Linked DNA regions of Homo sapiens. The protein of the gene in region 6 interacts with the protein of the main gene of each other region in a biochemical or structural test. Each region holds a gene or a part of one and is shown on either strand. Other genes may lie near its edges.

Evidence for each region.
Region 1: the proteins of CASP3 (region 6) and TXN interact in a biophysical measurement, tested with the Homo sapiens proteins (one study listed by IntAct).
Region 2: of the proteins of CASP3 (region 6) and ARHGDIB, one has a biochemical effect on the other in vitro, tested with the Homo sapiens proteins (one study listed by IntAct).
Region 3: of the proteins of CASP3 (region 6) and GSN, one has a biochemical effect on the other in vitro, tested with the Homo sapiens proteins (2 studies listed by BioGRID).
Region 4: the proteins of CASP3 (region 6) and POLI form a complex in vitro, tested with the Homo sapiens proteins (one large-scale study listed by BioGRID).
Region 5: of the proteins of CASP3 (region 6) and NUCB2, one has a biochemical effect on the other in vitro, tested with the Homo sapiens proteins (one study listed by IntAct).
Region 7: of the proteins of CASP3 (region 6) and RB1, one has a biochemical effect on the other in vitro, tested with the Homo sapiens proteins (2 studies listed by BioGRID).

What each region holds. Positions count from the first base shown.
Region 1 is NC_000009.12:110,253,142-110,257,999, reverse strand, and holds the start of TXN (thioredoxin), read left to right. Parts: upstream 1-1,492; 5' UTR 1,493-1,564; coding exon 1,565-1,588; intron 1,589-4,858. UniProt on the Homo sapiens protein: Participates in various redox reactions through the reversible oxidation of its active center dithiol to a disulfide and catalyzes dithiol-disulfide exchange reactions.
Region 2 is NC_000012.12:14,951,181-14,955,497, forward strand, and holds part of ARHGDIB (rho GDP-dissociation inhibitor 2), read right to left. Parts: intron 1-4,317. UniProt on the Homo sapiens protein: Regulates the GDP/GTP exchange reaction of the Rho proteins by inhibiting the dissociation of GDP from them, and the subsequent binding of GTP to them. Regulates reorganization of the actin cytoskeleton mediated by Rho family members.
Region 3 is NC_000009.12:121,326,668-121,330,574, reverse strand, and holds part of GSN (gelsolin), read right to left. Parts: coding exon 3,893-3,907; intron 3,268-3,892; coding exon 3,093-3,267; intron 1,685-3,092; coding exon 1,560-1,684; intron 1,338-1,559; coding exon 1,260-1,337; intron 1-1,259. UniProt on the Homo sapiens protein: Calcium-regulated, actin-modulating protein that binds to the plus (or barbed) ends of actin monomers or filaments, preventing monomer exchange (end-blocking or capping).
Region 4 is NC_000018.10:54,275,639-54,279,955, forward strand, and holds part of POLI (DNA polymerase iota isoform a (long)), read left to right. Parts: intron 1-2,064; coding exon 2,065-2,217; intron 2,218-4,317. UniProt on the Homo sapiens protein: Error-prone DNA polymerase specifically involved in DNA repair. Plays an important role in translesion synthesis, where the normal high-fidelity DNA polymerases cannot proceed and DNA synthesis stalls. Favors Hoogsteen base-pairing in the active site.
Region 5 is NC_000011.10:17,275,595-17,280,355, forward strand, and holds the start of NUCB2 (nucleobindin-2 isoform 1 preproprotein), read left to right. Parts: upstream 1-1,144; 5' UTR 1,145-1,234; exon of another isoform or gene 1,235-1,258; intron 1,259-1,428; exon of another isoform or gene 1,429-1,703; intron 1,704-4,761. UniProt on the Homo sapiens protein: Calcium-binding protein which may have a role in calcium homeostasis. Acts as a non-receptor guanine nucleotide exchange factor which binds to and activates guanine nucleotide-binding protein (G-protein) alpha subunit GNAI3.
Region 6 is NC_000004.12:184,635,534-184,639,850, forward strand, and holds part of CASP3 (caspase-3 isoform a preproprotein), read right to left. Parts: intron 2,936-4,317; coding exon of another isoform or gene 2,921-2,935; coding exon 2,868-2,920; intron 1-2,867. UniProt on the Homo sapiens protein: Thiol protease that acts as a major effector caspase involved in the execution phase of apoptosis. Following cleavage and activation by initiator caspases (CASP8, CASP9 and/or CASP10), mediates execution of apoptosis by catalyzing cleavage of many proteins.
Region 7 is NC_000013.11:48,477,826-48,482,142, reverse strand, and holds the end of RB1 (retinoblastoma-associated protein), read right to left. Parts: intron 2,165-4,317; coding exon of another isoform or gene 2,146-2,164; coding exon 2,072-2,145; 3' UTR 253-2,071; downstream 1-252. UniProt on the Homo sapiens protein: Tumor suppressor that is a key regulator of the G1/S transition of the cell cycle. The hypophosphorylated form binds transcription regulators of the E2F family, preventing transcription of E2F-responsive genes.

The DNA.
Region 1 (4,858 bases), on a different chromosome or scaffold from region 6:
CTCTGGGTGCTCCATACAGCTCCTTCCTCTCTGCCCCAATAACCTCCCTCTCTTTGGGAACATTGCTGCATTCAGGGCAGTCTGTCTTCCCTCCCTATGGGCTGTCTTTAGAATGTGTCCCTTGCCTATATCCATATTCATGCTCCGTGCTCCTCAGCCCCCTAGAAACTTTGCACAATAGATTCAAAACCTCTGGTTTCCTCCCTTCCTCTGTCTGAAAGAGTGAAAGAAGGAAGCCAGGGATTTCAGGGGGCAGCCAGGCAGCAGTATCACCACCCCTAGGCAATCACACCTAGTTGCAGCTTCATCGGGAACAGCTCAGCTCTGAAAACACAGACCTGGGACTCTCCCTCCCAGCCTTCTAGCTCTCGTTCCTGTGAGCAGCTTTTCAACCTCCACTTCCAGCCGCTGACAGGCCCTCCTGGCTCCACAAGGCCAGCTAACATACCCACCTTCCACAATCCCCAGCCCTGCCAGACATAACCTGCAACAGGCATTCCTGGATCAATGCAAACTCCGACTTCTGTTCCAGGAGTCTGCCTCTGTTAGAAGAATCTCACACAAGTGTGCGTGCTGTGCCATTGTAAATGCTGTATAAGGTGGCCAGGCCCAATCAGTCCCTGCAAGACACCGAACAGTAAGAACTATCTATGGAGTGTTTACTATGTGCCAAGCACCGTCCTTTGCAAGCACTATTAACCCTCAAAATACCACCACCGTGAGATTGAGACCATCATGATTCCCGTTCTACAGAAGGAAACACTGAGACTTCAGGAGGTCAGGACCTTTCCAGGGTCACAACTGCGTAACTAAGTTGCAGAGCTCAACCCAGTGGCACTTCCATCTCACACGCAGCTGTCTGATGGTCAAGAGCCCAACCAGTCCCCCGGTCGTTTCTACCGCACTAAACCGCTGTGTCAAGCTGGAGCAGCGGGCTCAGCAGTGAAAATGAAAGAACAGAAGGAGGTTACAGAGAAGAGAACGGTCACGGTAAATTCCGGAGAGGAGGCAAGGACGTACACACCGAGATACTTCCCGGTCACCGTTACTCAGCACTTTGTGGGGTTCACGTGGCTGGGGGGGCCGGGGCGTGGCGGCCCTTTTCGAGGAATCCAGCCCTGCCTGGGCGGTCCCCATCTCGAGCGTGGGCGTGTTCGATTCAGGCCCGGCGGACGCATCCCCAGGTGACCCGGGAGGGACCTTGTGTCTCTGGGGGTGACTGTCCGTCTCCCCGCCTCCCACCGTCACGCGCAGTGCTGATCCCCACTTCCAGCTGGAGTGCGAGCTGGGCTTGGGGTTACAGGAGCCGAAGCCCTGGAGCTCCGCCCCACGCTTGCGCCAGCCCCGCCCCGATCCCGGCTCGCAGGCTCCAGGGGCGGGGCGTGGCCGGGGCGCAGCGACGGGCGCGGAGGTCCGGCCGGGCGCGCGCGCCCCCGCCACACGCACGCCGGGCGTGCCAGTTTATAAAGGGAGAGAGCAAGCAGCGAGTCTTGAAGCTCTGTTTGGTGCTTTGGATCCATTTCCATCGGTCCTTACAGCCGCTCGTCAGACTCCAGCAGCCAAGATGGTGAAGCAGATCGAGAGCAAGGTACGCGCTACCGGGGAAGGCCAGGGTGCCGGCGCCGCGCGCGGCCTCTGTAACTGGGGAAGGCGGTGGCGGGAGGTGGGGAAGGCGGTGGCGGGAGGTGCGGAGGCCGCCCCTCCGCATCGCCAGGGGAAAGGGACGCGGCGTCTCGGCCTGGGACTGCGGGAAGCAGCGGCCTGGGCGCGCCCGAGGCGGTGGAGCCTGCCCTGGAGGAAGGGAGGAGAAGGACGAGGGTCCCCTGGAGGGCGGAGTGGCGGTGCCCAGCGTTTCTCGCACCCTGTTCCTCGGGGGATTGCACGCACGCGGGGAGCGTCCGGGGGATGTGAGAGCGCAGACAGCGTGAGGAGTCCCCACGCTGCGCCTCCTGCACCCTCCCGTCCGGGCAGCCCCGACTGGAGGAAGATGAGGGAATGGAAGGGGTCCGCCCTTGGCCCCCCATCTGTATCCAGATTCAGGCCCCAGGCAAGGATAGGGAGGGCCCTTGCAGAAGGCACGGGTCGGTGGCCGCCGCTGCCTTTCCGTATGTGAAGTGATCCACCCGCAGCGGGGGTAGTGATCTCCCTTTGGGAGCGGGTCTAGGCCGGAGACCCCCGCCTGCCTCCACCCATGCCCGACCCCAAAGGTGACGCGTGCTGTATCCGCACTAAGGGGGCGGATTGCGGCTGGAGACCCCCTGGCACGTGCAGGTCTGTCCAGGAGGCCCGAGGGCCCCAGGTGACCGCGAGGAAGTGAGGTCCGGGCCGCGCCCACGGGACTCCTGTGGCGCAGGGCGCGTTTCCGGCAGCAGTGGCTTTGGAATGACTGAGTCCCCAAGGTTGGGCCCGGGGGCCTCGGCTGCCCTGCCCGTCCATGATTCACCCTCAGTCGGTGGGTTTTGCTGGAGCCAGGGTTCCTCCTGGGAGCAGCCGCGCCCTGCTGCCTGCTCGCCGACCTATCGGTATCCCGATCGTTGTTTTGTCCTCTTAAAAATGCCCAAGGCGAAACAGCCTTCCCATGTTTGAAAGTTATTGCAAGCCTAAAACCTTGTAGACTGGGAAACCCAGAGCCTAACGCGCAGTGTCTAGTCCAATGTAGCCACTCCAGAAATATTTGTTAAATGCAGCGTCAGAAAAGTGAGTGGAGGAAATTGATACTGCTCGAACGGTAGAAGACCCCTCGCCAGCGCCTACCCTGCGATTACCCCTCCCTACCTGCGGGAAGCAGAGGAGGGCGGGTCCTCGCCCGCCTCGGGTGCCCTGACCTGTTTGGTGCCGGGTGGGCTTCGGAAACAGAAGTGTGTCTGCAATGTGTCCCCGATCCTTTTGTTCCTTTGATTATTATTGACTCTCAGTGTTTTTTCCTCATATGTTGATTGCCACTGTCATCTTTTATCTTCCTCTCAATCAGTTTTTTCTTAGTGGGATTCTCATTTTAGCAGCCCTCATGTGTTGAAAAGATCCTTAGTAGTGAATTGTCTTTCATATACTTTTTTTCCAAGCACCTATTGTGTGACAAATTATTAATCCATTCCTGGGGAAGGGAGTGGGGCTGGGATTCTGTTCTCCAGGGTCTGGCAACCTCAGTATAACCCAACTGCTAAGAACCCCCTCCACTGAGCCAGAAGACCTTTGAGTGGTCTATGTTAGTTGTCCCAAAATCCAGACACTACAAACAAAGTTGATTAGGATTTCTGGAGCACACAGTTTAGTCCTCCCAGTTGTCAGAGCATGTCAGAGCACCTTCCTCCTCTACCAGTGACAAAGGTGTACAAGGGTGACAGGAACTTTAAAAAAAGCACTACAGCCTGGGGCCCAAAGGCCCTGATAATCAATTAATCCTCAAAATAACAATCCAAAGTCATTGATCGAAAGTTACACTAATTTGATTGTTATTTGTCTGTTAGTTTGTTTTTCGAGATGGAGTTTTGCCCTTGTTGCCCTGGCTGGAGTACAGTGGCGCGATCTCGGCCCACTGCAACCTCCACCTCCTGAGTTCAAGCGATTCTCTTGCCTCAGCCTCCTGCACAGCTGGGATTACAGGCATGCGCTGCCAAAATGCCCAGTAATTTTGTATTTTTAGTAGAGATGGGGTTTCACCATGTTGGTCAGGTTTGTCTCGAACTCCTGACTTCAGGTGATCCACCAACCTCAGGCTCCCAAAGTGCTAGGATTACAGGCGTGAACCACCACGCCCAGCCTGTTATTTGTAAATGTTGAATACATGTTACATTTTCATCCTAATGGGCTAAATTTGCACCATTTGCCATTCAGAACAATTCTGTTTCTGAGGTACTCTGTTGGTGCTTTAGGGCCAACTGGGATCTATTTCAGAGAGGAATGGAATAATTGACTGTAAATGTGATGAGGAAGAAATAAACACTTTTAAAAAAAATGACACCTACCATTTATTGAACTCCCATCTACAAGGCACTTGGCTAAGTACTTCAGAAACCACTCACACTTATTACCCTCAGAGTAGGTATGTTGAGGCAACGAGATCTTAGACTCTTGCTCCTATTTACCCCAACTACACTGTTCTGCTTCCCCCAGATTATTGGTGTCAGTGATGGAGACATTTATTAATCCTGTTAGTTTCTGGGAGCTAGAAATTGTGATTTCTTCTTAGTAATACAATCTTGAATAATTTTCAAGCTGATACCCGTTTAGAAGTATCAGAAGAGAATTTGTACATGAAGCCTGCACATACGTGGGGTGTAACTCATGTTCAGTTAGGCTAAAAGTTATTGTTGCGTGCCTCTTTTCAGAATTTTAGGTACTTGTGCTTAAATTTGATTCAGAACTGTTTTGGAAAAGCCTTGAGTATGTTTGAAATACCTTCCCTCTTGAAAGTAATCTCAAGTTTTTAATAAGGGTTAATCATGTTAAAAAAACAAAAATGTCTATTCAACCAGACATTGGCATTTCTTGACCTTTTTTCCTGTCTTACCTGGATCTTGCAATAAAGGATGCCTGGTTTAACTTTCTTGAAAATCACATTAGGGAAGGCTTTGAATGAAATTGATCTGGAACAATAAGTGATGATTTGGAAAAACAATTGCTATACTTCTATGTACCCTGCTGCAGCTCTCCCCATGTCTCCACCTCTAGAGGTGGGGTTCAGGGATTTGCATAACTAAAAAATTTATGAAAGTGTTGTCCTACCTTTCTCAGGAACACCATTTGTGAATTATTTTCCCAAAAACGAGGTAGAAATTAGAAATCTAGAGAAGTAACTATTAGTACATGAGGTCATATTAGTGTTTTCTTGTTGGGTTTTTTTTTGTTTATTTGGTTT
Region 2 (4,317 bases), on a different chromosome or scaffold from region 6:
GGTGGAGTACTTGCCAGAGAAATGGTTGGCTCCTCCCCATCAATGGAATCTGTCCCTGAACTCCAGCAATGCCTCAAAGATGACTCATGACGAACCGTTGACCTTTATGATACCTGCCTCAGGTGCCTGCATGGTTCACACCCAACACTGCTAATCACCCCTCAAGGGTGGGTACTAGGTTTGCTGTTTTTCTTGAATTCCCCCTAAAACACTTGCATAGTTCTGGCACTTTATACAATTTCCTTGATTGATATATAAGGTTTTATATCTAAAGATATTCTATTCTTTTTAAATGCCACAAAAATAGCAAAGGACAGTTTAAATTCCTCCAGACAAAATCGTAAGTACAAATTTGCCCTTAGCATTTGTCCATCCATTTCCCTTTTCTGGATCCACTTCCCTTTCAGTCTCTCCCCTTCTCCCCTTCCTAGGTTTCCATTGACCTTATAAGGCCCCACCTGGGCATACCCTGGAGTCTTCCTTCATCTCTTATTATCTACATTTACTTGTTTTGTGTTAAAACATTGAGGAGAAATCTAGGCAAGTTATTTACCTGTTAAGGGTTAATGACTGAATAGTAGATTCAAAAATTATTCCTTTTAGAGGATGTATAGTCACAGCTTTTCAGAGCTGAAATGAACCACTGGGGTTCATGTAATCATTGAGGATATTGAGATCCAGAGTTAAGAGAATTGCCCAGGTTCACACAGCTGGATGAGAGGCAGTATACTAACCAAGAGGAAGAAGTCCCTCTGGGAAGAATTTCAGGCCCTGTGGCTGACAGCCACATGAGATGGCTGCCGGGGAGATATTTGGGCAAGGAGATTGTTTTCTGATTTCCTTAATTCTATCTTGAGGGTAACTCTTTTCCCTGCCTGTGGTTAAAGCCTTCATTGCTCCTAAGTGACACAACTATAAGAAAATGTCTGTCACATCACATCCTGAGTGGTTCTGCAAACCTTAATAAAGTCTCCCAGGAGTGAAGATATCTCTGGCCAAAATCAGTTCTAGTTTTGAGTTTCAATGTCACTATTATTGGCAAGAGGAAGAAAAATAATTTGGAAGTAAAGCCAAATGAGAGCAATTTTAATGGAACCAAAAAAAAAAAAAAAAAGAGAAACAAAGAAATAATATCCCTTGGCTCATCAATTCTCTTCCATCTAAATAAGCAGCCAAACATTATGAGCTAGCCTTGACCAACTCTGAAAACAGCATTGCAATGCCCAGGTTCACTTCCTGTACAGGAAGAAAACATGTAGGCCTGTTCCTATGGCAACTCTTGCTTTAGCAGAAGAAACAGCACCACTCAAAGATGAGACTCTAGAGCACAGCAGAATAAACATAGTGACTAATGCAATTCGTATTCCAAACAACACTCAGGGAAAGTGAATGAACTGGTTGGAAAAAAATGAAGGAGGCAGCGTGTAGATGTTGTAGGTTGTGGGAAATTTAATGACATTCATTAAGGGGCAAATGAAGAGCAAGCCAGATAAGACTAATCAGATGAGACAGGGGCATACCCAGAACCCTGGTGATCCCCGGAGGATGGGGGCCACATAACAAACCTGCTGACCGAGCATCGGAACAACGGTTCATAGAGGAAGACATCCCAGCCCCCATGGTCAGGCCTTTCTGAACTGTATCACTTGGTTCTAACAAGTCGCCTGATTGAATGAAACCTGGCCATCAGATGGTAACATTACATCCAGTCACTGGCTCAAGATGATTTCAATAACCTCCAGGAAATTGCAACTATGCAGGCTCAAATCTCAATGTTGAAAAGAGAAAGAGAGAGAAAGAGAAAGAGAGCGAGAGAGGGATTAGGTATAGGACAAGATTTGCCACCTTCTAACAGTATGACCATTGGCATGTCCATTTATCTAACATATAGGTCTTGATCTTCTCATCAGTAAATCTGAGGCTTATGTTCTACATTTTCTCGATTCATTGCAAACAGATATAACAATTGTTTCATAAAAAGAGACACAAATTTACCTAGACATTAAAGAGTGGAGGATACTGTGGGATTTCTGTACAAAATTTTGTTGCAGTCAAAAGGGGGAAATTCAGGGCCACATTAAAATCATTTGGTTTAATTATAGCATAAGAAAAAGAGATATGAGACCAGGTGATCCCAAACTAGCTCATTCTAGAAAGCTGATTAGAAAGAGTAATAATACAACAAATAAAGGACTGGAAGAGCAGTTCTCAGAGAAAGCCTTTTAAAGTAAAATTAGGGTCATGATTATTTGGTGAGCACCCACTGTTTACAAGACACTGTACTTCAGCCATACTGATGTTTAAATTACTCTTCAGAGTAGAGAAGAGGCTGGAAGTTGGGCAATCTAACTATACCAAAAGGGCCCACCTGGTTTGGTTGATTTCTTATTTTTTTTGGAGATTACAGGTCTCTTTTTTAAAAATCTGATAAACATTATGGTAATTATCTCAAGGAAAAAAAAAACAGATAAACCCATGACATTGTGCATATGATCCAGGGGTTTGTGGACCCCTGAAGTCCTTTATAGACTTATTTGGGTTCAAGATCTCCAGATTAGGAACATAACCTCAAAACTATGGAAGCATGAAGCAGAGAGTGGAGTGTTACAGAGGAAGGTTGCTTTTTTGCTTTTGCTTGCTCTCTCTCTCTCTCTCTCTCTTTCTCTTTCTCTCTCTTTCTCTCTTTCTCCCTTTCTTTCTTTGTCTCTCTCTCTCCCTTCTTTCTTTCTCTCTCTCTCTCCCTTCTTTCCTTCCTTCCTTCCTTCCTTTCTTCTTTCCTTCCTTCCTTCCTTCCTTTCTTCTTTCCTTCTTTTTTTGAGGCATAGTTTTACTCTGTCACCCAGGCTGGAGTACAGTGGCTCTATCTTGGCTCACTACAACCTCTGCCTCCTGGACTCAAGCAATTGTCTTGCCTCAGCCTTCTGAGTAGCTGGGACTACGGGCACATGCCACCTGCCTGGCTAATTTTTTGTAGTTATGGTTGAGATAGGGTTTCCCCATTTTGCCCAGGCTGGTCTTGAACACCTGAGCTCAAGAGATCCACCCGCCTTGGCCTCCCAAAGTGCTGGGATTACAGGTGCCTGGGCAGAAGCTTGCTTTTTCCTGGAGCTCCACCAGATCATTGACACAACTTAGTCTCAAGCTGAGAGTCATGTCCACCTGCTCAAAGTGTTGAATATATTGAAGCAGAAGATATCAGGTGACACCTGTGTCTGAGGGCGCATGACCACAAAGCCTGGCAGAGAAGCCCAGGTGCACATGGGTGCAGGAAGTAGACCCTTAGGAGAATTCCGTGGTCATTCCGTTTGATTTTGGATAATGCTCTCTTCATTGAACTAGGCCTTGTTATGCATGCCTGGGTTTGGGTTCTGGCTTTCCTACTAACTAGCTTTTCCCCTGTTAACTGAATGTTGCAACCACTGCGGATCTGAGTTTCCTCATCTTGGGGGATGAGGGATTAGAGCACATCATCTTTAGATGATTACTTTTCTAAGGCCTCCGCATATTTCTCCTGACCTGCAGTCATGGGTCAGCTAAGTTACCATTCAGTTACCTTATTTCACCTGTGAATATGAGAGAATATCTGTCTGTGTTTTGTTATTTAAAATGTATGTGAATCCCCATGCTAAGTGAGTAGACATTAGCTGCTCTTGGCACAGAAACAAAAAAAGGGTAACTACGTGAGATGATGGATATGTTGATTTGCTTCACTAACATTTTTACTATCGATGTGTGTCCCTAAACATTATGTTGTATACCTTAAATATATGCAATAAAATTCATCTTTAAAAGGAAATTTAAAAATTAAAAAATAAAATGTATGTGAATCCCCAACAGATGCTGCATATTTTATTTTATTTTATTTTACTTATTTTTCTCCCAGACATAAAATTATTTTTCTTTCACTGAACAGGTCTTTGCATAATAAAGGGTACCATAATAGTAATAGCAAATTGTTACTGAACACTTGTGAGCCAAAAACTCAGTTAGTACGGGATAAGTGCTTGGCATGCATTATTTCATTCAGTCATCGCAATGTTGTGAGGTAGGCACAATTACATTTTACAAGTGCAAAAACTAAGACATAGAAGAAAATATTAAATATTTCAATTACACAAGCATTTAAAATTCCTTTCCTAATATCACCCTATAGACAGTGAAAAGAGTAATGGTCTGGATTCTAAAAATGAGACATTCGCAATGCATGTATTAACAAGAGATTGATATCGGGAATACATAAATACCTCCTATGAATCAATTTCTTAAAAAGTATTTATTGTATATATTTAAGATGTAAAATATGTCTGGGATACATAG
Region 3 (3,907 bases), on a different chromosome or scaffold from region 6:
GAGACGGAGTCTCACTCTGTCACCCAGGCTGGAGTGCAGTGGCATGATCTCAGCTCACTGCAACCTCCGCCTCCTGGGTTCAAGTGATTCTTCTGCCTCGACCTCCCAAGTAGGTGGGATTATAAGCACCCACCACCAAGCCTGGCTAATTGTTTTGTATTTTTAGTAGAGATGGGGTTTCACCATGTTGGCCAGGCTGGTCTTGAACTCCTGACCTCAAGTGATCTGCCCACCTCAGCCTCTCAAAGTGCTGGGTTTACAAGTGTGAGCCAACATGTCTGGCCCTCTCTTACTTATTTATAAATGTGTTCCCAACTAAAGTGGAAGCCCCTCGAAGGCAGGCATTCTATTTTGCTCATCATAGGATTCTCAGCACTCAGCATTTTGCCTGCAAGACCATGGTGCTGAATAAATGTTGGCTGACTGAATCCCTAACAGATGAACAAACAGATTAAGTAGCCAATGGATCAATCAATGACAACTGCTGAATGGCTCAAGCTGCAATCATTTTTGGTCCCGATCTTCCAACTGGGGATTCCGAGCATCCCTGTGGGTAGTGTAGAGTCTTATGCCTTCGTGGCCAGCTGCTCCGTAACTCTGAGGACTCTGGGAGAAGCCACCTTGATAGGAAAGGTGACTGACCTGACACCCCTGTGAGAACGTAAGCCCTGGGAGAGCAGGAAAATGCCTACTTTATTCATTGCTCTATCCCAGCATCTCAAACATAAAGCACCTGGCACAAAGCAGTGCCCAATTAATATTGGTTGAGTAAGTGAATGGCATCTTCCCCTGCCAAGTCCTACATAATGGCCTTCTCTAGGAGATGAAGTGGAGACAGAGCCCAGAGCCCTCAAACCAGAAGCAGGAGCCCTCTAGAGCCTCTAGGTGACACTGGACAGTTTATGCCTGCAAACAAGATGCTGCTAAGTTCAACTTCCTCTGCCAACAGATTTAAAGGAAGAGTTCACGCTCCTGCAAGGTCTGGGAGAGAATGATGAAGGTCATGTGATTTGCCTTTATAGGGCGTTTTGCAGCTTTCAAGGTGAGTGTATCTGCAAGGGAGGTACCGCCACTCCCAGTTTACAGATGAGGAAATGGAAGCTCAGAAAGAAGAAGTGACTTCCAGTACCCTTAGAGACTTTTCTGGCAACACCTGGCACTGCCCCCTTTAGGTCCTTCTAGCAACTGATCATAGAACTGGAAGTCTAGTTTCTCCCACTCCCTCTGGCACAGAGAGCCTTCACCTGTCCTTCACCCACCTGGTCCCAGGTGTCCAGAAGCATGACGTCATCCGTTGCCAGGTCTTCCTGCATGAGCTCACCAGGAACCTCTTCGATCTGGGAAGGAACGAAAGAGCATCAGTGAGATGTCTTCCCTCCCCTGGGTGGCCTTCCTTTATCTGCCCCCTGAGGGAGTGGCACAGCTGGCTGCAGCTGGCAGGGGGCCCCTTCCTCTGTGCCACACCATCAGAACTGTTTCTCCTGCCCCTGCTGCCGGCCAGTCCTGTGGAACTCGCCTCCCGAGGGGAAAGCAGAGGTGTGACCTCCGCAGGGGCTCACCACAAAACGTCCAATCTTGTTGGAGCAGGCAAAGAGGCGAGGAGGATGGGCATCCATCTTCTTGTCCTTCAGCCGTGGGGATGTGCGGTAGGCAGCCTTCCCGCCCAGGGCCTCCCAGAAGCCATCTGTGAGGGGAGGCCACGCCAGTTGCCAAGGGACGCCATCACCCCTCTCTCCCATCTCATCGGACCCTGGGACCAGCCCTGCCCAAGCGCAACCAACTGCTCTCCCTCTCCTCCCTCCATCCTAAAAATCCCAGGAGATCCAGAGGGAAGAGGCCTGAGGGAATTGGAAGGTGACGAAATAGAGGCCCAGAGAGGGCAGACTTGGCAGTAGTCACACAGCCAGGACCACTATTGGCTTGAGGCTGACGACAGCATTGCGGGATGAGGACCATTAGCTCCACTCAGCTAATGAGGCAGTTGTGGCTCGGAGAGGTTAAGCAACTCACTCAAGGTCACACAGATGGTAAGTGTTAAGACCAGGATACAAATCTTGTCTGATTCTAACACCTATACTCTTTCCACTATACCTGCTCTGTCCATGTGCAGCCATTTAAATTTAAATTCATTAAAATTAAATTCGACTAAAAGTTCAGTTCTTCATTCCCACTAATTCCCACTGGTCGCATTTCAAGTGCTCAACAGCCACATGTGACTAATGGCTGTCAAATTGGACTCGGCAGATACAGAACATGTCCATCTGCATAGAAGGTTCTGCTGGACAGAGCTGCTTTAGACCAAGTCACTCTTCACCATTTCTGTTAAGCATCAAGCAGGTGGGAATGAACTCAAAGTAACAGTATAAAGACTGCAGGCTGGCAGAAGGAAGAGCTGCCCGGCCCACATTCTGGAAACAGAGCAGGCTGGTGGCATTTCTGTCCATGGAGAGTCTAGAGATGCAAGGAGACCACTGCTCCTCTGACGCTATCAGCCCTGCCTACCACCTTTCAAGGCTTCCTAGCGAGGGACCGCCTCCTTCCACAGACCAACTGCTCCTTCCCACACTGGGCTCTCCTTTCTTTCTTTCTTTCTTCTTTTTGAGACAGAGTTTTACTCCTGTTGCCCAGGCTGGAGTGCAATAGCGTGATCTCAGCTCACCGCAACCTCCAACTCTCGGGTTGAAGTGATTCTCCTGCCTCAGCCTCCCGAGTAGCTGGGATTATACAGGCATGTGCCACCATGCCCGGCTAATTTTGTATTTTAGTAGAGATGGGGTTTCTCCATGTTGGTCAGGCTAGTCTTGAACTCCCGACCTCAGGTGATCCGCCCGCCTTAGCCTCCCAAAGTGCTGGGATTACAGGCATGAACCACCACGCCCAGGCTAGGCTCTCCTTTCTTTAGCTCCTGGAGACCTCCCTCTCTCTGGCCACAGCCCTCATTTTAATGCAACTGCTTTTATTTAACATACATTAGGGGACAGGCCCTCAGGTGGGATGGAGGGGAGGATTTAGAGCCCCCAAGCTGAAGGAAAGAAGGGGGAAACTTAATAGCTGCATCCGGACAGCAGCAGGCCCCCCACCCCGGCTCCTACCTGGCTCGCTGCCTTCTGCCACCTGCACAGGTTGGGCCCGCAGCACCCTGAGCAGCTCCTGGGCCCCCGTCTTCTCTGCCTCGCTGGCTCCTGTACCCACCCACAGGTAGGCGGCTGAGGGGGTTTTCAGAACAAAGGCATCGTTGGAGTTCAGTGCACCAGCCTTAGGCAATACCTGGGAGGGTACAGCTTGGTTAATCAGGAACCAGACAAAAAGCCCTCAGCCCCCTCCTCACAGCCCAGGAGACCCCGCAGCAGGACTAGCTCTCAGGTGGGGACTTGGAGGAACACAGCCCATCAGAGCTGAGGGCACAGACTTTGGACCCTGATGGCCTTGGTTGACTCCCATGAGTCACTAATGCACTGTGACTAGCCAACATGATTCTAAAAATCAGGGCTGCATTAACAGAAGTTGAATGCCCAGAACAAAGGAGGTGAGAGTCCCATTCCCCTCTAGGCTGCTCAGACCATCCTGGGAATCAAGTCCAGATCTGTGCCTTCCTCCGTGAAAGGGATAGTAGGCAACTGGAACGTAATCAGGAATGGCATGCTGATTGTACAGAATGGTAGGTAGTGAGCTGTCCACTGTGCAAAGTGTGCAAGGGACACTGGGTATCCTTGAAACAGGGGGGAGTCTAAGACAGACAACCCTGTGGCCACGGCAGGAAAATACAAAAAGCTGCTTCTTACCCCGTCATTCACCATCCCCTGCCCCCGTTCCTGTGCCTGGAGATCTGGTCATTGAGCTGGGAGGTTTCAGGGAGGCCAATCCCTTCTGTGTTCCAGGACCTGGAAATTACCTCAACAGCCCGGGT
Region 4 (4,317 bases), on a different chromosome or scaffold from region 6:
GAAGAGTAAATCATTGTTTTGATTTGCAGTTTTCCATGAGTAAGGTTGAGTATTTTTTCATATATTTTTGGTCATTTATGTATTTTTTTCTGTTAACGTATTCACTTGCACCTGTTTTTAATTTGGGTTGTTCATCTTTTTCTAAGTACTAAGTACCTAGTACTTTTTGTGTTAGGTATTTTTTGAAAAAAGTTACTTTATCAATTTTTCTCACAGTATTTTTCTGAGTTGAAGTAGGCGCGTAGCCAGTTAGTCCTTTACTGTATTTATCTCTGATCTGTTTATAACCTTATTATTTATTTCATATTTTGATGCTACTGCATATATACCTTTCTTCAAGGTATTTTTTTTTTCTGTAATTACAGACTCCTCTTTTGGGCCCTATATAATTATATGTTTAATAAATGTATCTTGCTTATGAAGTTGATACCAAGAAAGAGGTTAACTTCAGGAATGGAGGCTGGGCATGGTGGCTTATGCCTGTAATCCCAACACTTTGGGAGGCTGTGGTGGGGTATCATTTGAGGTCAGTCTGGGCAATATAACATAGCAAGACCCTGTCTCTACAAAAGTTAAAAAAAAAAAAAGTTAGCTGGTAGCATGTGCCTGCAGTCCCAGAGGCCGAGGTAGGAGGATTGCTTGGGCCCAGGAGGTCAAGGCTGTACTGAGCTGTGGTGTGCTACTCCACTCCAGCCTGGGCAACAGTGAGACCCTGTCTCATTAAAACTACAGCAACAACAAAAACCTTCAGGGACGGGATAATTAGGGATTTGTCCTGTGACCTAAAATCAGTCAATATTTAGTGATCCACCAGCTTCGTGCATGATTCTGTATTTAACTTGCTTTTCTATTTAGTGCTTAAAGCCTTATCCTTTATTTTTCTTATGTAGTATTCTTTTGATAAACTCTTGTTTTCTACATGTTACTTTGCATATCAGGTATATACTTTTGAAAATAAATTGCCGAAATTGATGAAGGAAATGCAAAACAATCATTTTCTTTGATTAGACATATTGTCAGTCTGTCCTGAAAGGAGGTAATAGTTTTCTCTAGGTAATAGTTTTCTCAGGAGTGATTTTTGGTGTTTGCCATGTCACATTGTTACCTTTATTGGTTTCCCCTCACATTGTCAATGTTGACATCAACAAAACAAAAAAGCACCTTTGGTGTTTGTGAAAAAACATGATCTATGTGGAATGAGATAGTCCTTTTATTTCTGAGCTTCAGATTATATGACCTTAAGAATCTATGCATTTTTGTATACTAAGAGACTTGCATTTGTTTTCTCTTATCCAGCTGGTGTCAGTAGAAAGTGATTCAGAGGGAAGTGAAAAACTTTCTCAATGATTTTAAAGTTATTAGTCTCAATGTTAATATATGAAAATTGATAGTTTTTTTGAATTTATTTTGAATTTTGGTTCAGCTTAATCTAGTAAACATTTGACTTGAGGACTAGATATTGTGCTAGACGCTGGGCATTTGAATACCTGTAAGTTGTGGTTCATCTCTGCCTCTCTGTCCTAAGGAATATTCTTGGGAATGGCTAATAAAAATACCACGTTATAGTATATTTTGAAAGTTGACTGACTTTCTGTTTTATTCAGTAATAATTGGACATTTTAAATATTATTTTGTTTTGCCTCTTTTAAACTCTTGGAGAAAATATAGCTAAAATATACTATTACTTGTTTTTAACTTTCCTGAGCAGCCTATAGTTTATTCTTTGACACATTTCTTCAAGGTCACCAATTTACTATAAGCATTGATATTTAATGTACTACAGATATAAAAATTATAGGTGTAGAAGATTGAGCTAGATATATTGCCATGAATAACTGCCCTAGGAATGTCATTTTTAGACTTTTTTGAAAATATTGCCTTTATACAAGATGTGGTACAGAAAAAACGTCAATTAACTGAGGGCTTTATTAAAGATATTATGGAACTATGAATGTATATAAAACCTTTAACAATAAATTTGATAAATTTTTAAGCACTAGATAGTTAAATTTATCCTAGTTATAACTTCATTTACATTTGTGCTCCAATATTATTTCAATTTAGAATTACTGGAAGAATTTAGTCCAGTTGTTGAGAGACTTGGATTTGATGAAAATTTTGTGGATCTAACAGAAATGGTTGAGAAGAGACTACAGCAGCTGCAAAGTGATGAACTTTCTGCGGTGACTGTGTCGGGTCATGTATACAATAATCAGTGTGAGTGGGTTCTTATTCATTCTACCTACTAACCAAAAGTACATACATTTCTTAATGTTCAGTGAGTTCGCTGTGTGATTCTGAAAGATTCATGACTTTTGTTGGAGGTATAGTTATATTTAGTCAGTAATCTGTCTAGGACAGCTAAAATTAGGTGCTGCTATTCCATAATAAGTGTTAAGATTTTGATGACATGTAGCTCAATGCTCTGTGCACTTTTCATTTGCACAGAGCATTGTTCCTGTTCATCTGCACAGAGCATTCATCTGTGCAGAGTTTTCGTCTGACACAGTGCATTGGTTCCCATTTTAGAAAGCCATACCCAGCTGGGCACAGTGGAGCGCCCCTGTAGTCCCAGCTGTTTGGGAGACTGAGCTGAGAAGATTGCTTGAACCCAGGAGTTTGAGTCCAGCCTAGGCAACAGAGCAAGATCCCATCTCTTAAGGAAACAAAAAGCCATACCTCTGTAGGTCATTCTTAAGTTGTAAGAGTTGGCTTCTTAATATGCTTTTTGGAATAATTTTTTATTATTCTAAAACAATCTCTAAGCAGAGTTTTCAGGTAGGCTAGATTTGCCTTTGATGTGTCTTTTACATGTTCCCTTCGATTCCCCTTTGATGTGTGTTTTACATGTTCACTTCGATTCCCCTGAGACCCTCATGTTGCTCTCTGAATTCCCAAGTTAGCACTTTTGGAATGTTGTCCAGGGCTATCTGCCATGTGCTAGAATCTTCTCCAAGCTCCTATTTAATCTGTTCAAATAATCTTTGTCAAAGTTAGCAAGAAAGCAGAATGGTTTGTCTCCTTCATATATTGAGATATGAATGACTGATGGTGTTTCCAGTGATATTTACATTTGAAAATAAGCTGCAGTAAGCACCAGTGAATATCTGATTAGGCTTTCAGACATCTTATGACTCTGCTGGTGACTCCCCTATCATACCACATACAAGACAAGGTACTCTGCTGTTGTGTAAGACTTGTCTGACCCTTTTGCTCTTAAGCCTCCCCATGCATTTCCTCTTATCCTCTTTTTTGAGAACTAGACATCGGTCTACAGAATAGTTCTCCACAGAAGAAAAGCAGTAGAACCACAGTTTCTAGAATACATGGAGCTTTTCCTGTATCTTTTGTACTTGTGCTCATTTGTAACTTAAAAGGGCTAACTAGCAAGAATATTTCAAATATATTTCTGTATAATTTTTAAGGCAAACTTGGATTTTATTGGTTAGAGTACATTATAGAGAGCTAGGTTTTATATCCCAAAAAGGGAAATGTGGAATTATTGATTAATTCTTCCTCTTTCATACAGATTTTATTAAAATTTTTTGTAAACCTACAGAAAAGTTGACAGAATAGTACAAAAAATACCCATTATGTCTTTTCTTTTTTTTTTTTTTTTTTTGAGACAGAGTCTCACTCTGTCGCCCAGGCCGGAGTGCAGTGATGTGATCTCGGCTCACTGCAACCTCCACCTCCTGGGTTCAAGCAATTCTCCTGCTTCAGCCTCCCGACTAGCTGGGACTACAGGCATGTGCCACTACACCCGGCTAATTTTTTTATTTTTAGTAGAGACGGGGTTTCACCATGTTGGCCAGGCTGGTCTTGAACTCCTAATCTCAGATGATCCGCTTGCCTTGGCCTCCCAAAGTGCTGGGATTATAGGCATGAGCCACTACTCCTGGCCCATTATGTCCTTTCTTGTAGATAAACCAGTTGTTATCGTTTTGCCACATTTGCTTTCTCTTGTTCTCTCTATGGATTGCTTGGTTGGTTGATGAGCTATTTGGAAGTAAATTGCAGACATCCTGACATTTCATCTCTAAATACTTTTAGCGTTAGTCTCTTTGAGGTTAGGATGGTTTCATGTCATTCCAACACTGTTTTACACCTAAAGCAAATTTATTTTTATATAATTTTCTTACACTTTTCATAAAAGAGCTCTAAAACTGTGTACAGGTCAGAGATTGTTTCTAGCAGCATATACTGCTAGTGCGTGGTTAAGATTTAGATCTTTAAAGTATAATGTTAGCTTTCTTGTTATATAATAATACTTCTATGCCTACTTACGGGTAAATATGAGTAAAAGTTTTGCCAATG
Region 5 (4,761 bases), on a different chromosome or scaffold from region 6:
TTTGTTTGTTTTTTTGAGACAGGGTCTCACTCTGTGGCACAATGATCATGGTTCACTGCAGCCTCGGCCTTCTGAGCTCAAGTGATCCTCCCGCCTCTGCCTCCGCCTCCTGAGTAGCTGGGACTACAGATGTGCGACACAGCACCTGGCAAATTTTTAAGTATTTTCTTCAGACTGAAACATCATTGTGTTAAAGATAAAAAAGTAAAAAATATTCTTGTAGAGATAGGATCTCACTGTTGTCCAGATTGGTCTCAAATTTTTGAGCTCAAGCCATCCTCCTGCCTTGGCCTCCCAAAGTGCTGGCATTACAGGGTGAGTCACCATGCCTAGTCTGTACTGTTTTCCTGGCAATGTTATCTCATTCAATCTTCGTGAATAACCCTAAGGTAGATATGATACCAATTTTTCAGGTGAAAAAAACTAATCGGCAGGATGAAACTTCGTAAACAGCCTGTGGCTCCAAAAGCTTCTGGAAGGCTCAAGCTACCCATGTGCATCTTTGAGCCTCAGTTTCCCCATCTTTAAAATGAGGGGTTTGGAATAGATGTCTGTTCTCTGGGGCAGGATGCAGAGGAAAGAGCTGTCTGCGAATGGGCAAGAGAGAAGGTGGGTAAATACAGTTAAACCACAGTGACCGAGGGCCCAGCACAACGGGGGTGGGTGCGGTTACAAATGCCGTTAAGATTCCCGCCAAGGCGGAGGACGGGGGTGTCAGAGCCGAGCGAGGCCTGTGGGCGAGAATAGGCCTGACAGCCATTCTCCGACCTGCGTGGGCGCTGCAGGCGCAGGCCAGAGGCCAAGGGAGAGGCGATCCCTGGGGCTCTGCCCGGGTCTCAGGACGGCACCTCACCCGCCCGAGTCCTGCTCCACAGGATTCTCCGGGTAAGCTAGGGAAGGAAGAGGCGCGGCCTCCTGAGCCCGCATCTCAGAGCGCCACGTCCCTCCTGGCTCAGCCTCCCACCAGGCTCCACAGCTTCGGCCCTCCTCACCGCCCGCCTCCAGGCTCCCCGGCGCGGCCTTGTCCCTGCTCCCGCCAATCGGCGTCGTCAGCAATCGCGAACCGGACCAATCAGCGGCCGCAGAGTGTGGGAACTGTCGCCATGGCAGCCAGGAGGCGGGCGCGCGCGGCGGGAGGAGGGGCAGAGCGGAGCGGTGGGCCGGGGGCTGGAGGACAGGTTTGTGCGCTGGACGCAAGCACCAGGCGCAGCCTCGCTCGCCGAGACCCGGCCAGGTAAGGCCGGTGGCCGCGCGGTAGGTGCGGAGCAGCGCGGCGGGAGATTAGGGGTGGGGGAGTCCGGAGATAAGGCTCCGGTCTTCGCCTGCCTTGCCAGAGCAGAGAGGATGGTGGGGGCCGTGCTGTGGGCGGGGCACCGGCGGGGAGGGGGCTCCCAGCGCGAGCCGGAGGCGCTGGGTTCCCTCTGCTCCACTCGCAGCTGGGCACCCGAGCTTTCTTCGGGGTCGAGGAGGGTGGCTGGCTCTTGGCGGGGAGCAGGAGAGGGTAGGTGCCAAACCGAGACCCTGGCGGGGTCCCTTCGGGTTTGGGCAGGTCGATGGGCAAGGGGGTGCCCACTAGTGAGGAGGGACACCCACCAATTCCAGGCGATGCTCCCCTGTGCCGCTCAGCAAAGCTAGGCCCGGGGATCCTGCTCTTCTCCGGTCTGGTTAAGCCAGCAACCTCTGACACTTAGGAGAAAGTTAGTGTAAGTCGTGATATGCTTTTCACTTAAGTGACAAATTAGGTACGAGATGAACCCTTTTGGTTTTAGGAGATGAGAAACAGTATTTCCTTGTTGCACCTGCTAAGTGGCAACTCAGTGAGCAAATATGGTTATTGTGGTTGGTGTTTGCAACGGTCTTAGATGACAGTTATTTTACAGTATCAAATGGCTGGGAGAGGGAGGGAAAGAAGGAGAGAGAGAGAGAGAATATGAGGGAATGAGAATGAACGGGAACCATTATGATTTTTGAGAGACAGAACCTCTTGAAATTCTATGTCTGCTAAACTTCTAAATTGAATAATGTACATTTTATGCAATTGAATAAGCTAGTGCTACCATTTAAGCCTGCTACTAAGGCTCTGTTAAATCCGTGGACGAATATGAACACTAAAAGATATTACCTTGGTTTAAAAATAGGGGAGGTTAAATGCAAATATTTCTGATAGTGAATTTTGTTTGAGGGAGATTGTGGACTTTCCCTATGGGAAAGTTAAAGAATTGATGAGATAGATGCTTTAAGGAATGTTTTTGTTTTTTGAAACTTGAATAAGTTCAACAAATGTTGAACAAATATTTCAACAAATCTTCTTCAGCTAATAGGGTCAAAAATTAAAATTCTGGAAATTTAGAATTAGAAATGAAATCTCAAATAATGTCACTCTCCTAATTAGGATGAACATGGAAACTTCTATTTCTCATCGTGGTCTTCAAGCTTTCCATGATCTCATCTACCTTTGTAGTAGGGGGTCAAATTTTTTTTTTAACTAGACAATTTTAGAAACTTAAAGGAGGCAAAAATTTATTTCTGTCTCCGTGTGTTTACTCATGCTCTTCTCTATCCAAATTTTACCCATCTTTTTTTTTTTTTTTTTTTTTTTGAGATGGAGTCTCACTCTGTCACCCAGGCTGGAGTGCAATGGCCCGATCTCAGCTCACTGCAGCCTCCGCCTCCCGGGTTCAAGGGATTCTCCTACCTCAGCCCATCGAGTAGCTGGGATTACAGGGACCCACCACCACAGCCAGCTAATTTTTTGTATTTTTATTAGAGACGAAGTTTCACCATGTTGGCCAGGCTGGTCTCGAACTCCTGACCTCAGGTGATCCACTTGCCTTGGCCTCCCAAAGTGCTGAGATTACAGGTGTGAGCCACCGTGCCTGGACGACCCATGTTCTAAGAGTCGAATCTGTCTATGTTGTGTTTACCTTTCTTTGCTCTCCCAAGGTACATATTGTTCATATCACGTATTTTGTATATATTCTTTCAGCATGCTTTTTGCCAAGTTGGTTTGCGCTCTGTGAATAACAGTTGAGATAAAATGCACAATTAAGACAATTAAGGTACTTTTCAAGACACAACTAATTATGGGCACTAATATCAATAACATCAATTCAGATGTCTTTTTTGTTTTGGGATATGTTATTAATCTCTGAACACATACTAAACTAATTTTGCATTACTTAGAATAATATGTAAATTACTTTCCACTTTCTAAGGACCCTTTTGAAGGCTGGGTTCTACAAAATACCCTTTTGAGTACTGGGTAGCTGGCAGAAGCAAGTGCAGGATTTAAAAATGTATTGAAAATAATCCTTTAGGCCGGGCATGGTGGCTAATGCCTGTAATCCCAGCACTTTGGGAGGCTGAGGCGGGTGGATCACTTGAGTCCAGGAGTTCAAGACCAGCCTGGCCAACATGGTGAAACCCCGTCTTTACTAAAAATACAAAAATTAGCCAGACGTAGTGGCGGGCATCTGTAATCTCAACTACTCAGGAGGCTGGAGCAGGGGAATCGCTTGAACCTGGAGGCGGAGGTTGCAGTGAGCCGAGATCGCGCTATTGCACTCCAGCCTGGGCAACTAGAGTGAAACTACGTCTCAAAAACAAAACAAAAAACAGGCTACTAACAATTTCAAATAATTTATTCAAGGAAAAACTTCAATCACTTTCATTATTTCCAATCAAAAATTTTTTTTACAACCATGATGTGGTGAAAAGTATACTTAGTTAGAATTTCATGGCCAGATTCCAGTACGGGCTCTGCCAAACGAACTTGGCCAAGTCAGTTAACTTCCTTCTGTATTTATAACCTTTTATAAAAGTAGGGCTGAATTAGATTACAGTAGTCCTCCTTTATCCTAGAGGGATATGTTCCAAGGGTCCCAATGGATGCCTGAAACTACAGGTAGTACCAACCCTTATATACGCTATGTTTTTTGCTATACATACATAATAATAAAATGAATAACAGTAATACACTGAAATGAAAGTTATATGAATGTGATCTTTCAAAATATCTTGTTTTACCTCAGGTAATTGAAACTGCAGAAAGTGAAATCGCAGATTAGGGAGGACTACTGTACCTCCAAGATTATTTCTGATCTTAGAATTCTCTGATTCTAAAATCCTAAAGCAGCCTAATAGAAGTTCAGATAGTAGTTACTTGATTTTATTTTTGGCAGAGCATTTTTTTTTTTTTTTTTTTTTTTTGAGACAGGGCCTCACTCTGTTGCCCAGGCTGACTGGAGTACAGTGGTGTGATCATGGCTCACTGCAGCCTGGAACTGCCAGGCTCAAGTGATCCTCCTACCTCAGCCTCCTGAGTAGCTAGGACTAAAGGAGCATGCCACCACACCCTGCTAATTTTTAAGTATTTTTTTGTAGAGAAGAGGCCTCGCCATGTTGTCCAGGCTGGTCTCAAACTTCTAGGCTCAAGCGATCTGCCTGTCTTGGCCTCCCAAAGTGCTGGAATTACAGGCATGAGCCACTACACCTGGCCTTGGCAGAGTTTTTTTTGGCAGTGTATTTTAATTATCTGAAGTACAGTATATGTAAATAATAAAGAGATTATAATTTTAATAATATGTTTATTGAGTGATACAGATCTGTTTTTCATAAGCCTATAATCTAGGATACTCCAATCCGTTGTTAAGACTGGAAAAAAAGGAGATATAATAGTTTCATTGATGAGTGTCCTTTTCTACAGATGTAGACAACAGAGGCTCTAAGATCTATACTAATGTCTTGATCAGGGAAAAGCTG
Region 6 (4,317 bases):
CCAGGCTGTCTTCATTTCAATTTCACATCAACAGTTATACAGATGAGAAAATGACCTGACGTGAGGCTAAGTAATGTGCTAAAGGTTATGCAAATATTGTGTCACAGCCAAGAAGGAAGGAAAGCATCTGTTGGACTTCAGAGTTCAGGCTTTTAACTTCCATGTTTTACATTTTCCTCTAAATTCTTCAAAATTTCATCAAATACCTTTATAATTTAAAAATTACTTATTAACTTTGTGAAATATTTTATCCTTTGAGGTAAGAGTAAAAATCTTAAAAATTACCCTGAAATGATGGGAAATCAACAAAATGCAAATATAACTCAAAGCACAATATTTATCACAATTCATAAATTATTCCTTAAACCCCATGAGCTAAACAAATTAGTAATTTATTAATATATAAAAGCATTATTGTAAATAATTGAAAATATCTGTCTGGAAGTCACTTATCTAAAAAAACCTCTGCTATCTAGATTGGGGTCAGTAAACTTTTTTTTTAATGGGCTAAATATTAAGTGTTTTAGGCTTGTGGGCCATCTGGTTTCTGTTACAGCTACTCAATTCTATTCTTTTTTTTTTTTTTTTGAGACATGGTCTGGCTCTGTCACCCAAGCTGGAGTGCAGTGGTGCCATCATAGCTCACTGCAACTTTGAACTCTTGGGCTCCAGTGATACTCCTTCCTCAGCCTTCTGAGTAGCTAGGACTACAGACAGGCATGCCCCACCATGCCCAGCTAATTTCTGTATTTTCTTTTTTAGAGACAGGATCTCGCTATGTTGCCCAGGCTAGTCTTGAACTCCTGGCCTCAAGTGATCCTCCTGCCTTGGCCTCCAAAAGTGCTGGGATTACAGTTGTGAGCCACTGTGCCCAGCCATAGCTGCTCAATTATACTGGTGAAACGGGCTTAGGACAATATGTAAGCGAATGGATGTGCCTATATTCCAACGAAAGTTGATAAAAACAGGCCTTAAGCTTGATCCCTGATCTAGACCAAGAGTCAGGCAAAAACAGGTCTAGGAACTACCAAACACTAACACCTACAGTCCATATACTCATGCACTTAACCTTAAGAGCATCTCACATTATACACAATTCCAAAAATACTGTTGGAAAAAGATTAAATGTAGTAAATTAAAGGAGTCAACGTGAGAAAACAGTTATGATTTTTAACCAGAGGTGAACAGCCTCACATTTACAGACTGAAGTTAAATCCTGAAAGCGTGACTTGACCTTTGAGTCCTACAGATGATGGATCATGGGACTTATGACTCCCAGCTCCCGACACCCCTTCCCCACGTGCTCTGGGTGCCTCCTAAGGAGGTAGGTACTTTACAAGCATATGATAGCTAGTCCACGAGGGGATACTCCTAATAAAAGGCAGAGGCTGTGAAAGCCGGGACTGTGAGGGCAACTTACCAAAGGATCGAAACAACCCTAAACCTGTCTGGGGCTTCCGTGCAACTTGTTATTGAAGTGGTGTTCTGCATGACATGAAAAGGTAGGGCCAGGCAGGGTGGTTCACACCTGTACTCCCAGCACTTTGGGAGGCCGAGGCAGGAGGATCCCTTGAGGCCAGGCATTGGAGACCAGCCTGGGCAACACAGCAAGACCCCCATCTCTACAAAAATAAAAAACAAAAATAACCAGGCATGGTGGCACATGTCTGTAGTCCTAGCTACTCAGGAGGATTACTGGAGCCCAGGAGTGCAGTGAGCCATAATCAGATCACTGCACTCCAGCCTGTCTCAAAAAAGAAAGAAAAAAAAAATAGTAGGAAAATGTGTAAATCACTTTCAAAGGATTTTTTTGAAGAGATGGGGTCTTACTTCACTGTAACCTCTGGCGTGTAGCTAGGACTGACTACAAGCACACACACTATGGTGGACTAATTGTTTTTTGTTTTTTTGTAGAGACAGGGTCTCGTTATGTTGCCCAGGCTGGTTTCAAACTCTCCACCTCAAGTGATCCTCCTGCCACAGCTCCCACGTAGCTGGGATTACAGGAGCAAGCCACTGCACTGGCTAAAATGATTTAAATGACAGCAACAACTCTCTAAAATGGGACTGCATTTTAAAAGTTTACTTTCTAGAAAAATCCCTTTGCTAAACAAAATTGTGAAATCTTTAGTGGTAACTTGTTAATAGTATTTCTGTAATCATATTGTTTAGTAATAAAATTAGTTTGTAATATTCAGGGCAGCCGAGAATAACAATACTGGGTTTCAGAAATAAACTTTCAGAATTTAAAGTATTACGAGAGATCCCAAATAAATAATAACAGACAAGAATTAAAAAGTGAATTTGAGTTTTATCTTTTTCCTTTTTCCATCTGCTAGTTATTGGAAGCATTAATAAGCAGAATATTCCAAAAAGACACGGGGAAAAAAAGGGTAAAATTCATCCATAACTAGGCAGTTTGTCCCCGGACTGAAAACTGGCATTGCATTTTAGTCGTAAAAACTCATAAACAAGAGGTCAAGAAACTCCTCCCAAACCTAAACCCTCTAATCCTATAGAGCGATTCGGGAGGGTAGAAAGCACCGGCGCTTGGGAGTCCTGCCTCTCCTGTGGTGTCCTTTTGGTTCCAGGACTAGGTTTCCAACTATGGGTCACACACCCTACTAGGCCTTTCCTTTCATCTTCCCTTCAGTTCTGTGAAAGTTTTAGCCCCATGTTAAAGACGAGGTTCAGAGAAGAAAAGTCAGTTTATGCAAAGCCACACAGCTGTCTGAGGTAGGAAGTCACTTGGTCTCTCTGGCCTGAGAGAGAGACCACTCTCTTTCCTCTTGCCCCACTGCTCGAGGTTTGCTTATTACACATCCCCATCTTTCTCTGATTATAAAGAATTCAATTTAAATACTCACGGTTCCAAATTTTTAATGGATTTTGAATCCACTGAGTTTTCAGTGTTCTCCATGGATACCTTTATTAACTAGAATACAAAGAAAATAGAAGTTAATAAAAAATCAGTCATAAAACCACTGCATTATATTAATTATCCCAGTGATTATTTTTCCAAATTAATACCTCAGTTCTCCCTCTACTGTTAAAGGTGTATGTGAGTCAGTTCTGGGGATAATGATTTCTTTGCAATGGTACATACAATTTAGCCTCTCTCTCTCTTTTTAATTGAGCTATGAATTATATATAGTGAACTACATAAAGCATATAGAAAGTATACAGCTCGATTTTTTATATTTACATACCCTCATCAGATCAAGATACAGATTACAGTTTATTTCTTTTGTAAGACAACACCTCGGGTCATTTCTAAGAACTGCAACTCAACACAGTTAAAACAAAAATCAAAAACTTCCCACCACAATGGTATAACTCACATAACACAATTCTACAATGCTTAGATTCCCAAGATACAGTATCAAGATGTTCCAAATCTCCATTAATCTTTATTCTTTTTTTTTTTTTCTTTTGAGGCAGGGTCTCACTCTGTCACCCAGGCTGGAGGGCAGCGGCGCAATCACGGCTCACTGCAGCTTCGATCTCCTGGACTCAAATTCTCCCGCCTCAGCCTCCCGAGTAGCTGGGATTACAGGCATGCACCACCATGTCTGGCTAATTTTTGTATTTTTTGTAGACATACGGTCTCGCTGTATTGCCCAGGCTGGTCTCAAACTCCTGAGTTCAAGTGATCTGCCCACCTAGGCCTCCTAAAGTGCTGGGATTACAGGCAAGAGCCACCGCACCCGGCCTAGTCTTTACTTTTAAAGTGGGTTTTGGAAGCCCAGCTTCTCATTTAGGGTAGTAAAATGGCCCAGGAAATGTAAAAGTAGAAACTAAAGTTTCTGCTTTCATTCTTCCATTACACAATTATATCTCACAAGGTGAACCAGTTCTTAGAATCAAAGCAACTATCACTTATTGAGCACTTAATATATACCAGGTACTTTGCAAGGCACTCAGTTTTAATCTTTTCAAAATTCTAAACGTCAGAAAACCCAACTTCTGGTGGTTAAGTGACTTTGTCGACAGTCACAATCTAAGTGACAGGGCCCTCTTCCCACTCTGCTATGCTGCCTCTGAAGAAGCCAGCTCCTTACTACTTTTCTGGAGTTCTACCAGGCATTTTCTGGCTTTTCGAAGCAAAGGTACTTCCCATGGCAATCCACCTCCCTAAATAGAGGAAAACAAGAACAAAGGCAAAACAAAAAACAAAAACAAAAAATACTGAGTGACCTTCTCCACACTCTAGAAACCCTGACAATGTCAAAAATTCCAGTCAAAATACAACTTTAACCTCACTCCTATGATAAAATCAGAAATACCAAAATAATACACAAGCCTATAACAGAACTT
Region 7 (4,317 bases), on a different chromosome or scaffold from region 6:
ATTTGATTTTAGTTTATATTTGGAGACATTGGGTAGAGGGGAGTAGGAATCAAGAGTTCTGTTGGCTATAAAAGCCTTGACCTCTGTGAAAAGATCAGGGCTGAAGAAATAAATTTGGAAATCTCTAGCATATAGAGCCCCTTAAAGGCTAGGAATGGATGAGATACTAGGAGAGTTATCTTCTATCTATCTTCTCCTAGACAGAAAAGAGAACATTAGTGTACTTAATACAAAGAACACAACATCAGACCATTAAGACTCTTAACAACTAATTTATTTTAAAATAGACAAACTATTAATTGTAGAAAATAGTAACATAGCAATTTTAAATGTACAGTTTTAACCAATACAAAAAAGCAATAAAGCAATAATATCTGAAGCATTATTTAAGAAATCTCAATACACGATCTCTGAAGTTCCTAAAATTCTGGCACTAATTCTAATGTGAACTTAGTAGCAAAAGACCCAGAAATAGTAAGCCCTTGACCTAAAAACTAACTGATTTGTATGATATTCATGCAGAAACAATGATGAAATGGAGTCAAGTTTTCTAGTGTCATTGTTATCAAAATAACTGTCAAAATAGTAAGTTTGAAACTTAAATGAGCACAAAATAAAATTTTGTTTTCTAACAAGACCAGATTTCTTTTTAAAAATAATTCTGAGTTAGACAAAGTGATTTTCCTAAAAGCTAGCTGAAGCTACCTTAAATATCCCCTATTTTAAGTTACAGCATCTCTAAATAAGTTAATCACACAAGATAGTTTAAATACACCTTTAGGTGTAGGGGAGGGGAGAAGCGCCTCTTTTTCTAATGCAGCTGTTTTAATTTGAAGCTTTTGCACAAAATCAGATAGAAACATTAATGCCTAACCCATAATGACCCTTGATTACTTGTAATTTTGGACTAGAAATAATGTGGCTTTGAACATGCCAGTGTTAGACCATACTGACTTAAAAAAATAAAAGATAAATAGACAATTGCCAGTTCAAAAGATACATGGAAGACATGTACCATTCCAGAGAAAACACAAACCTTCCCAAATTAAGGAGGGCAGAATAATTTTGAGATGCAATTAGACAAATCTCTATGAAAAAAAAATTAAGGCTCCTATAATTAACAGTCTGTTTATGGAGTAAAATTAATTTGTATCTTAATTCTTCAGGACCCAGAAACATTAGAAAGTGCACTTGGGATATACTGTGTTAGGGTCCTCTATACCTAAGATCTGGCAGAACACTTTACTTTTTCAAGTACTAGATGGGTACTTTATAAATTCAGTGATCTGAATGGTATAAAAACCAAGAGTACTATCAATAATCCTCATTTAAAAACATAAGTTGGATGAAGAAAATAATCAGTAAGTTCTTTTACATTCTGAGGTATGAAATCTGTTTCAGTAGTATGATAGTATCATATGGTTATACTTTGCTTCCAGCTTTTATTTAATTAAAAGCAAAATTTTATAAAACAAGCACACAGTATATCAGATTCCAATAGTAAAATAAAATCTAATGTGTAAAATTAGTAATTTTTTTCTAATTTCTAATAATATCCATTTTTGCAGAAGAGTTCAGGATAATTTTGGTGAATGGGCAGTCAATCAAATTGCATTTGGAAGATAGATAGGACACATTTTCTAAGGGTGTTCATGTTAAATTAAAAAAATATACATATAAATTAATAAAAACAAGAGCAAACATCACCTATATGCTACAAAAGAAGGCAAAGTAGTCAGACAGGCCTGGGTTATCAGGACTCCCACTCTAGGGCCATTCTTACTATCCATAAAGCACAGCAATTTTACTTTGGAAGAGGAAACAATCTGCTACAACTTTTTAAATGGCAGGATTTACACAAGATTTTCAATCTTGTATAAATAACAATGACTAACATTTCAAGTGGCTTAGGAATCACCCAAACAATTGCATCTGCACATTTTATATCCACAAAAAGAGCTGAAGATATTAAATGTGGCCATAAACAGAACCTGGGAAAGTTATACAGTCACATCTGTGAGAGACAATGAATCCAGAGGTGTACACAGTGTCCACCAAGGTCCTGAGATCCTCATTTCTCTTCCTTGTTTGAGGTATCCATGCTATCATTCATTTTCTGCTTTTGCATTCGTGTTCGAGTAGAAGCTGGAAAAAGGATGAAGAACTGTTAACAGCATTGATGGTACTGGGTAAGTTGGCAAGTGGCTGCCATATATATTATGCTCATGTCAAACTGATGGCGCTCAGGACCTTGCAAAAGCAGTGGTCTTCATTCTAGTATTTGACAGTACCGTAGGGAGTTACAGTTAATTTACTGCATATTTCAAAATAGCTAGAATTGTAATGTTCCCAATGCAAAGAAAAATGTTTGAGGTGATATATATCCCAATAACCCTGATTTGATCATTACACATTGTGTACACGTATCAAAACATCACATGTACCCCTAAAATATGTATAACTATGATATATCAATTAAAAAAAAAATTCCCTCCCCACCCCCCAAAAAAACAGTGGTCTCCAAATCTTTAAAAATCATATATCCCTGTGAGTAAATTTTTTTCCAAGCCTGTACCACAAAAATACGTATGTATGTACAAATTATAAAACACATACCCCAAGCAAACATTAAAATGAGATAAATAGAACTTCTACTTTATGTACCCCAAAAGATGACTTTGCATACTTCAGGTATGCCCCATTTTGTAGGCCACTATTCTAGAGATGAGGTGGTTGATGCTTGGCATATACTTCAGCAGACTAGAATACTCGGCTGGCCCAGACTGAATCTGCCAGAGTGAGTGGTGGTATTCTTTACAAAGCTATAGGTTCCCTTATGTTTGCAGATGCCTTGCAGGTACTGCAAATACATCAAATCATAGCTCATTTAAACTGGGCATGGATTTTTTTTTTTTGAGACAAGGTCTTGCTCTGTTGCCCAAGCTGGAGTGCAGTGGCATGATCATGGCTCACTACAGCTTTGACCTTCTGGGCTCAAGCAATTCTCTCACCTCAGCCTCTCCAGTAGCCAAGACTACAGGCACATGCCACCAGGCCTGGCTAATTTTTGGATTTTTTTGTAAAGATGGGGTCTTGCTATGTTGCCCAGGCTGGTCTTGAACTCCTGGCCTCAAGCAATCCTCTCACCTTGCCCTCCCATAGTGCTGGTATTACAGACATAAGCCATCATGCCTACCCGGGGCATGGCCATGTTAAAAGCATATTATGAATTACAATATAGACAAAGCCGGGATACTTATTAAATTTCTTAAAAATTCTTAACTTGATTTTAGAGGTAGGCATGAGTTCTTTATAAAGAAGCACATTTGGAAAAATGGAATGCCCTTCCATTCTGGGCAATCCAGCATTGTATGATGATCTTTTCTAAATGTAATTCTTTAAGAAAAGCTGAAGAGCATCCTAAAGAAATGCCTTAGCCTCAGGGGTTAAAATTCTGCCTGCTTTGTCACAATTTTGTAGATGCACAAAGGTCCTGAACTTTGGCCTGGCAGAGGAAGCTCGCCATCATAGCTAAGTGTGTCACTGGGAAATGTACTAACTATAGCAACTGAACACTTCTCTAAGAAAATATACATGTTTTTACAGCTTTCAGCTCCTTTTTAAGTGCATATTTGTGGGTTCCAAAATGTTTCCATATGTCTTCAAGGCCTGATTTTGGTTATGAGCCTCTTGTCTATTTTCATGTACTGAGGGGAAAAGATGCAACTATTTAAGAGTTAAAATAGGAATATGTAAGTTGACATAAAATCCAAAAAGAGATTCATTTATAACTAGAAAATTTTGTTTTAGTTATTTAGTTTTAATTACACTTTAAAAAAATACATAGAAAAAAAGCATCCTTTTAAATATCTTATTTTCAAAGTTAGTATCTACAAAGATGTATTAAAAGAAAGCCTCTCATTTTAATTGGTATTGTTCTCATTAGTGTGTCCTGTGACCTAGGAATGATTGTTTTAACACCTATCTCCTGAATATTTGTCTTCTTTCAAAATCCCAGTTCCTTTTCCTATCAATGGATCTGGCAGCAGATACTGGGAAATGTTACACTCACTACCATAACTACCTAAGACAACCCAATAGTAGTTAGTGAACATTTATCTCTTTCCTAATGTGCTTTCCATCTACTATCCTTGGATTATTTTTTTTGTCTAGTCTCAGAGTAGTTTTGAATAGAATTCCACTTACCCTAACATGATATCACTCTGTATAACTTGGAAAATGACATAAGTGTTCTTTATTAAAATTCTGATTTCCAGTAATGGAAACTTTTGTTTGAAATTGTTTTAAGATTTGCAA